2 linked regions of the Homo sapiens genome follow. The protein of the gene in region 1 purifies or fractionates together with the protein of each later gene. This does not show direct contact. Each region holds a gene or a part of one and is shown on either strand. Other genes may lie near its edges.

The links. Proteins that work in one complex are often made in the same cells at the same time.
Region 2: the proteins of FAM114A2 (region 1) and TPST2 purify together in Homo sapiens (co-immunoprecipitation; one large-scale study listed by IntAct). This does not show direct contact.

The regions. Positions count from the first base shown.
Region 1 is NC_000005.10:154,004,411-154,007,910, forward strand, and holds part of FAM114A2 (protein FAM114A2), read right to left. Parts: intron 1-3,500.
Region 2 is NC_000022.11:26,541,633-26,545,132, forward strand, and holds part of TPST2 (protein-tyrosine sulfotransferase 2), read right to left. Parts: intron 3,044-3,500; coding exon of another isoform or gene 2,972-3,043; intron 87-2,971; coding exon of another isoform or gene 1-86. UniProt on the Homo sapiens protein: Catalyzes the O-sulfation of tyrosine residues within acidic motifs of polypeptides, using 3'-phosphoadenylyl sulfate (PAPS) as cosubstrate.

The DNA.
Region 1 (3,500 bases):
TTTCAACTATCCTCAACCTGCTGTTGACTCTTAGATCCTTATTTCTAGACCTGACCTCTCCTGAAAACTTATTCCAAATGTCTGCTAGACAAAATACTCTGCAGGCATCACACATACAACAAATAAAAACTTTGAACTCATTGTCTTTCTCTTCTTACCCCAAATTTTTCAACCTCTTTTATTTCCCAAAGTTTTAGAGGTGCCACCAGGTACCAGTTACCTGAGCCAAAATATAGGGGCCATCTTAGATTTTTTTCCTCTCCAACCAATCACCAAGATGGTCTGATTTTATCCAAGCCCCTCATCATCCTCTTCCCGTCTTCCTCCTCCCTATTACCACTACTTGAGTTCAGATCCACTTCATGACTGGTCTCTCTGCTTCTGATCTGTTTATCTTAAATCTATCTTCCAAAATGCTACCAGTGATCTGTCTTAAGCCCAGGGCTGACCATTCCTCTTTCCTTCAATGGCTCCTCATCAACTAGATCATGCTCTTTACATGATGTAACAGGTCTCCATGACCTAGACCCTACCTACTTTTCCAGCCTCATCTCTTATCATTTTCCACTTTATCTTCTGGTAAGAATGACCTCTACTGTACTTGTTCTTTCAATCCTCTACCCAGACATCATCTCTTTCAGGTAACTTAAATTCAGAACTTAACCAAATATAGTAGAATTATCTGTTTCCTAACTAAACTATGTATTATAGGATAGCTAGAGAGTGTTTTATTTGGCTTTGCACACCCAGTGTCCAGCACACTGTGAAGAACATCTACTGTTTTGGATATGGATATGACCAGCACCCATATCTCCTTTCTTTTGGTGGCAGGTTCTAGATTCTCCTTAGTTCATGTGACCTGGGTGCAGCTGCTTCCATCTTTTGGCTCCAAAAGTTGGCAAACCATTCAGATTTAGCTACTGAGAATACTAATACCCCTGTCCACAGAGTAAGTGGTGCATAGATTAAAAAGTAACCCAAGCCAGATCAATGGACATCAGTCTCAGGACATCTGGTAAAATTATCAGCAAAAAGAAGTGTTCTTTCAGTAAGAGTTACCGAAATGGAAAAAAGTCACCCACCCTGAAGCTGCCAATGGTCATTTTACCACCATATGGAAAAGCTTCCCTAAGAATGAAGCCAAAACAAAAAGGAAGCAAGCCGAAAGACACAGATAGGGATAGAGATAGGTTCCTGAATAGAGCCATGCCTGAAGCCAGTTCTGCTCCTTGATTTTCTATTTTCTTGAGCTACTGAATTCCCCTCTTTTAAATTAGTTTCTGTTATTTTTTAAGTTTCTTAACTTGAGTTTCTGTCATTTGCAAGTGAAAGAGTCCTGGTTTCTCAGAAACTGTTTATTACCACCTAGTTTATTAACTTTACATACACAGAATGTGTTCAAAGCTGTCATGAGGTAATAGGAATCCAGAGAAGACTTTGAGAGTCATTCTAACTGAGAAAACAGGTTTTATTACACATACAGTACTGGAGTTAGGCCTTGAAGGATCAGCAAGTGGGGCTACACCCAAGGCTACCCGAATGAGCTAAAGCAGACCTGTGTTCCCAGAATTTCACTGTAGGGTTCTTTCCCTATATCCTCCCACAAAAACATTCAGGAACAATCTAGCTCTGATCTATACCTTCCCATTACTTAAGCATTAACCTCTCAAATTCAAAACACCAAACAGCATGAACTATATAAAGGCTTGGAAACAGAAAAATGCAAAGTGTGTAGGCAAACAGTGAGATATCTAGCAAGACCAAAATATAGGATACTGGCATTTTACTCATTCATTTATTGCAAATATATACTAACACTGTGCCAGTGCTGGGGATTCAATGGTGAATAATACAAACTAGGAGTCTGCTCTTCTCTCTCCTAATAAGGCAATTAGCAAGCAAACAAACAAAAACATACATAAAGAAAATAAAATGGAGTAACGGTGGGTATGGGTAGAAGGTGGCTTGAGTTTGGGTGGTCAGGAAGGGTCTCTGAAAAGTTATGTTTCAGCTGAAATCTGAAGGAATTGGCCATACAAATAGTTAGGCAAAGAGAGTTGTAAGCACAGGGAAATCAGCTTGGTACACCTGAGAAACAGAATAAAGGCCAGTAAGGAAGAATATAGAGGATGAGGAGTGTGACAGAAAATTAGGTTGGAGTAGTGAGGTTTACAGAAGAGAACACTGAGAGATGAGGCTGGAAAGAATCATAACAGTTGACTAATAATACAAACAATATGTTAAATTCTTTGCAATATCTTTGAAGAGACAAATTGAGTAAAAAAATGAAGGATTAATTTATCAGAGATTAAAAAAGAAAAATGGAGAGTGATAGACCACATAAAAGAAAAAACGGATACCATAAATTTAATATACCCAAAGGAGATTTTTTTTTTTTTTTTTTGAGATGGAGTCTCACTCTGTCGCCCAAGCTGGAGTGCAGTGGCATGATCTCAGCTCACTGCAACCTCTGCCACACTGGTTCAAGCTATTCTCCTGCCTCAGCCTCCCGAGTAGCTGGGATTACAGGCACCTGCCACTGCGCCTGACTAATTTTTGTAGTTTTAATACAGACGGAGTTTCACCATCTTGGCCAGGTTGGTCTTGAACTCCTGACTTCATGATCTACCCACCTTGGCCTCCCAAAGTGCTGGGATTACAGGCGTGAGCCACCGCGCCTGGCCAGGAGATATTTTAGTAGGCATAGAGCATACCCAAAGTGACCTCTCTTGTAATAAATATATTAAGTGAAATCATCATGAACTATTGTGCCAACTCAAGGTAATTTATTATCCTTTCCCAAAATAATTAATGTCATCCACGACCACATTTCAGTCTGGAACTTCCCACTTGTTGAGATCTGCAGATCTCAATAGGTACCTTTGAACTTGGCTTCTCCAAAAGCTTATTTATTTCCAACAGAAAAATAATGAGGCCCACAGAAGAAAATGAATTTGCCCCAGGCCACACCACATGTGAGTATTAGAACAAGAATCAGAATCACAGAATCATATTCCCGGACTCCTAATTCAGTGCTCTTTCCCCTACATCACAGCCTGCCATATAAATCTTTTGAGGGCCAATGGTTAAGGCCTTGATCCTTAACCAATCTACATCTTAAGTCTCAATGCCTAAAATTTAAACAATCTGAAGATTGCTTTCAGAGAATGGCGAGAACTGCCAGACAGATAAGGAGTTACTGGCCTTACAAAAATACGTATTAATGTGATCTCTCATTAAGCATGTAAACTATGTCTTTTTCATGATTATTTCCCTAGCACCTAGCAAATTACTAAGCATAATAAAGGTTTATTGAACACATATGTATATTTATTGAACAGCTACATGTAGAGGACATCGGGCTGTCTTCTGTGGAGCCATCAACAGTGAGCATTTATTTACTATGAGCCAGGCCCTTTGTAAGAGCTATGTGTGTGAACACATTTAAACCTCACAGGAACTCTACATTATTACAACTCACCTCACAGATAGAAAAAAAT
Region 2 (3,500 bases), on another chromosome or scaffold:
TGGGCCGGAGGCAGGGTAGGCCTGGCCTGAGGGCCCGCTTCTGGGGCTTCAGCGACAGGTTAGCGGGCAGCCCGCCAGGCTCACATCTGGGGAGAGAGGGGGACATGCATAGTCAGGGAGGTCTGTGAGCTGTGAGCTCTCCAATAACTGCAAAGCCCTATAACTGCAAACAAGAGGCTGCTGACATGAATGCAGAGGGCACCTTTCATAAGCACTAGCTGTGTGCCTGGCACCCTGCTGGGCACTTTTTTCAATTTTTTTTGTTTTTTTAAAGAGATGGGGTCTCACCATGTTTCCCAGGCTGCTCTTGAACTCGTGGGCCTGGGTGATCCTCCTACCTGTCTCCCAAAGTGATGGGATTACAGGCATGAGCCACCCGGTCCAGCGGATCATGAGGTCAGGAGATCGAGACCATCCTGGCTAACACGGTGATATCCCATCTCTACTAAAATACAAAAAATTAGCTGGGCATGGTGGCGGGCGCCTGTAGTCCCAGCTACTCGGGAGGCTGCGGCAGGAGAATGGCGTGAACCTGGGAGGCAGAGCTTGCAGTGAGCCTAGACTGCGCCACTGCACTCCAGCGTGGGCGACAGAGCGAGACTCCGTCTAAAAAAAAAAAAAAAAAAGGCTGGAGTGCATTGAGTGGTGAGAGATCATAGCTCACTGCGGCCTCGGACTCCTGGGCTCAAGCAATCCTCTGCCTCAGCCTCCCAAGTACCTGGGACTACAGGCACACACCACCGCACCTGGCTAATTTTTAGAAACAGGGTCTCGCTTCAAGTGATCCTCCCGCCTCAGCCTCCCAAAATGATGGGATTACAGGCATGAGTTACCCCATCTGGCCCAAGAATATTAGTGATTTCTATCATAATCATTGGTTATTTACTTATTCCAACATTTAATGAGCACCTGCTATGTGCTGGGAGCCTCAGCCTCCAAAGTCTACTCTTACCATGGACCTGTGCCTGAGAGAGATTGATGGGTTCTACCTGCGTAGGTGAGGGAAGGCCTCCTGCAGGAGGTAGCCTTCATGCAGAATTTTCAGTGGTGGGTAGGAAACAGGCAGGTGGAGAAGGGAAACAAGGATGTTACCAGCAAAGGGAATAGCCAGCGCAGAGCCACAGGCAGGAAAGGATGCAGCACGACTGGGGAACTGCAAGTGACTTAGTGAACGGAGGGTTTGGTGGAAGCCAGTGGGAAGACAGCATGCCTCTTTGGATGTGAGGTTCCACCCAAAACCACCCAAGGGCCCAGTCTGCAGCTGGGCCTATCCACCTGCAAGGGCTTGGGCTGCCTGGGCCTTCTTAGGCTATAGCAAGTGGAAAATAAACATCAAAGCGGAGGGAACACAGTCTCAGGCCTGGGGTGGAAACTGCTAAGAGGCTAGGACTTCCTGGCCATGTGGCTTGGGAGAGTCACTTCCCTCATCTTAGCCACAGTCTCTTCAGCTGCAAAATCAGGGTGGATCCACTGACCTCAGAGGCTGCTGTGAAAATATGAGAAGCAGCTGACAAACCAGAGATGGATCTCAGGCTGGGGTCACCGGCCTCTCTGTGCATTGGATAATTTCCCTCTCTTCAGAAAAACGTGCTGATGAAGTTCTGCTGAAGAGGTTGGGGCTTCATTTGTACCCTCGATTCAGGGTCTGTGATGGAGAAAGCTAATTCAGAGCTACTTCCTGCGGGGAGGCAGGCTGAACAGGACATGAAGCCATTCCGAAATCCCTGCAACGACCCTTTGTCTTCATCAGGTGCTCAGTGAAATTCTCCCCTGAGACCTGTGACCAGAATCCTGTCAGTTATTAGGATTTCAGTGACAGCATCCCCACCTTGGCTGATTTTTTTGTGTGTTTTTAGTAGAGATGGGGTTTCACCATGTTAGCCAGGCTGGTCTCGAACTCCTGACCTAAGGTGATCTGCCCGCCTCAGCCTCCCAAAGTGCTGGGATTACAGGTGTGAGCCACCGCACCCGGCCAGCTTCAGCATTTTATGTTCAGCAAAGGTGTTCGAAATTATGGAGCATAAACTCTGCTAAAGCATTTTCCCTGCAGTATCTAAGCTCAAAGAGATGAAGCAGCTTGCCCAAGGTTGCATGGCCAGGGCAGGAATCCTGGATCAGACCAGGCCAAGGCTGAAGAAAACAGCTCAAAGCAGGCAAGTCAGAAGTGAGCAGAAGACAGCAATGACCTGCACGATGGCTTAAGAAGAAAAAGCAGGGTGACTTGGGACACAGAAAGCAGCCTGGAACCCACAAAGCAGAAAGTAGCTTCCTGGTTACCCAGAGCTAGGGACCCCACTGTGGAAGGAGCTAGAGGGCCCAGCCCAGGGAACTAGGCCTGCCCAACACCCTCATCACCCTGCTGGACCCTGGCAAGGGAGGTATCCTGGCATCCTCGCAGTGAGGATGATAGGTGAGGGCTTCTAACTTGGAGTACTACACTCCAAGGTTCAAATCTCACTTCTGCTGCCACTTGCCAGCTGGTGATCTGGACAAAAGGTATCACTTCTCTGAGCTTCTACTTTCTTCTCCAAAAAAGGAATAATAATACCCTTTTCTCAAGGAAGCTATTCAGAAGGCCAAGGAACTCCTGTGGGGTACTGAGAAAGCATACCTAAAACACTAACATTAGGAGAACGGGACACAACAGCGTTTGGGTTCTGGCTTGAATCTGCTCCGTGACACTGGGCAAGTCCCCCGCCCACTTTGGGACTCAGCCTTCTCTCTCCTATCACCTGGAGAATCGTCTTCCTAATAGACAAGGAAGATGCTCATCTCTCTATGATGCTTGCTGGGATGCAGCTTTTTCTAGTACCAGATTTCCAACCTGCTGGCTGAACAGAAAGGTGAAAACCAGCCAGGGGAGTTTGCCCAGGCACCCAATCATGGAGGCTGGGGGCATGGAGGGGACTTTTGGAGGGCGGTCTCAGGAGGGGCCAGGACTCCAGGGGAAGTTCCTTCTAGGTGCACTTACCTCCCTTGGGCACTCTCATCTCTGGGCTCCAGCCCTTGTGCCTGTGTGCCAAGGCTGTCTGCTGGCAGAGCCCTGGAGAGGCAAAGGAGATATTGCATCAGGGATGGGCACTGTGGAGAGGGGCCAAGCCTTCAAAGAGGCAGAGTGAGGGTTTAGGCTCCCAAGAGCACTGGACAGTGACATTTGGGAGAAGGACTCTGGAATGCAGGGGAGGCTGCTTCAGCTCAAGATACCACAGCTGGAGTCTCAACTTATCTACTCCTACAGGGAATGAACTGGCTCACTTCTTAGGCAGAGAGGTGTGAGCTGAAGTCTGAGCTAAGGCGCCGCTGCCTTAGGGAGCCCCTGGTTTATGCCAACCAGGCCTCTCCCCTCCTCTTGGCCTAGGGACCTTGGACTCCAGGAAAAGTAAATATAACAATAAGCAACAACAACCACCACTACACACCACTATTGCCACCTGAGATGGCTGGGTATGGTTGATCAGGTTGTGGACTGCACAATTCCAAATGGTACCACAGGCCCAGCC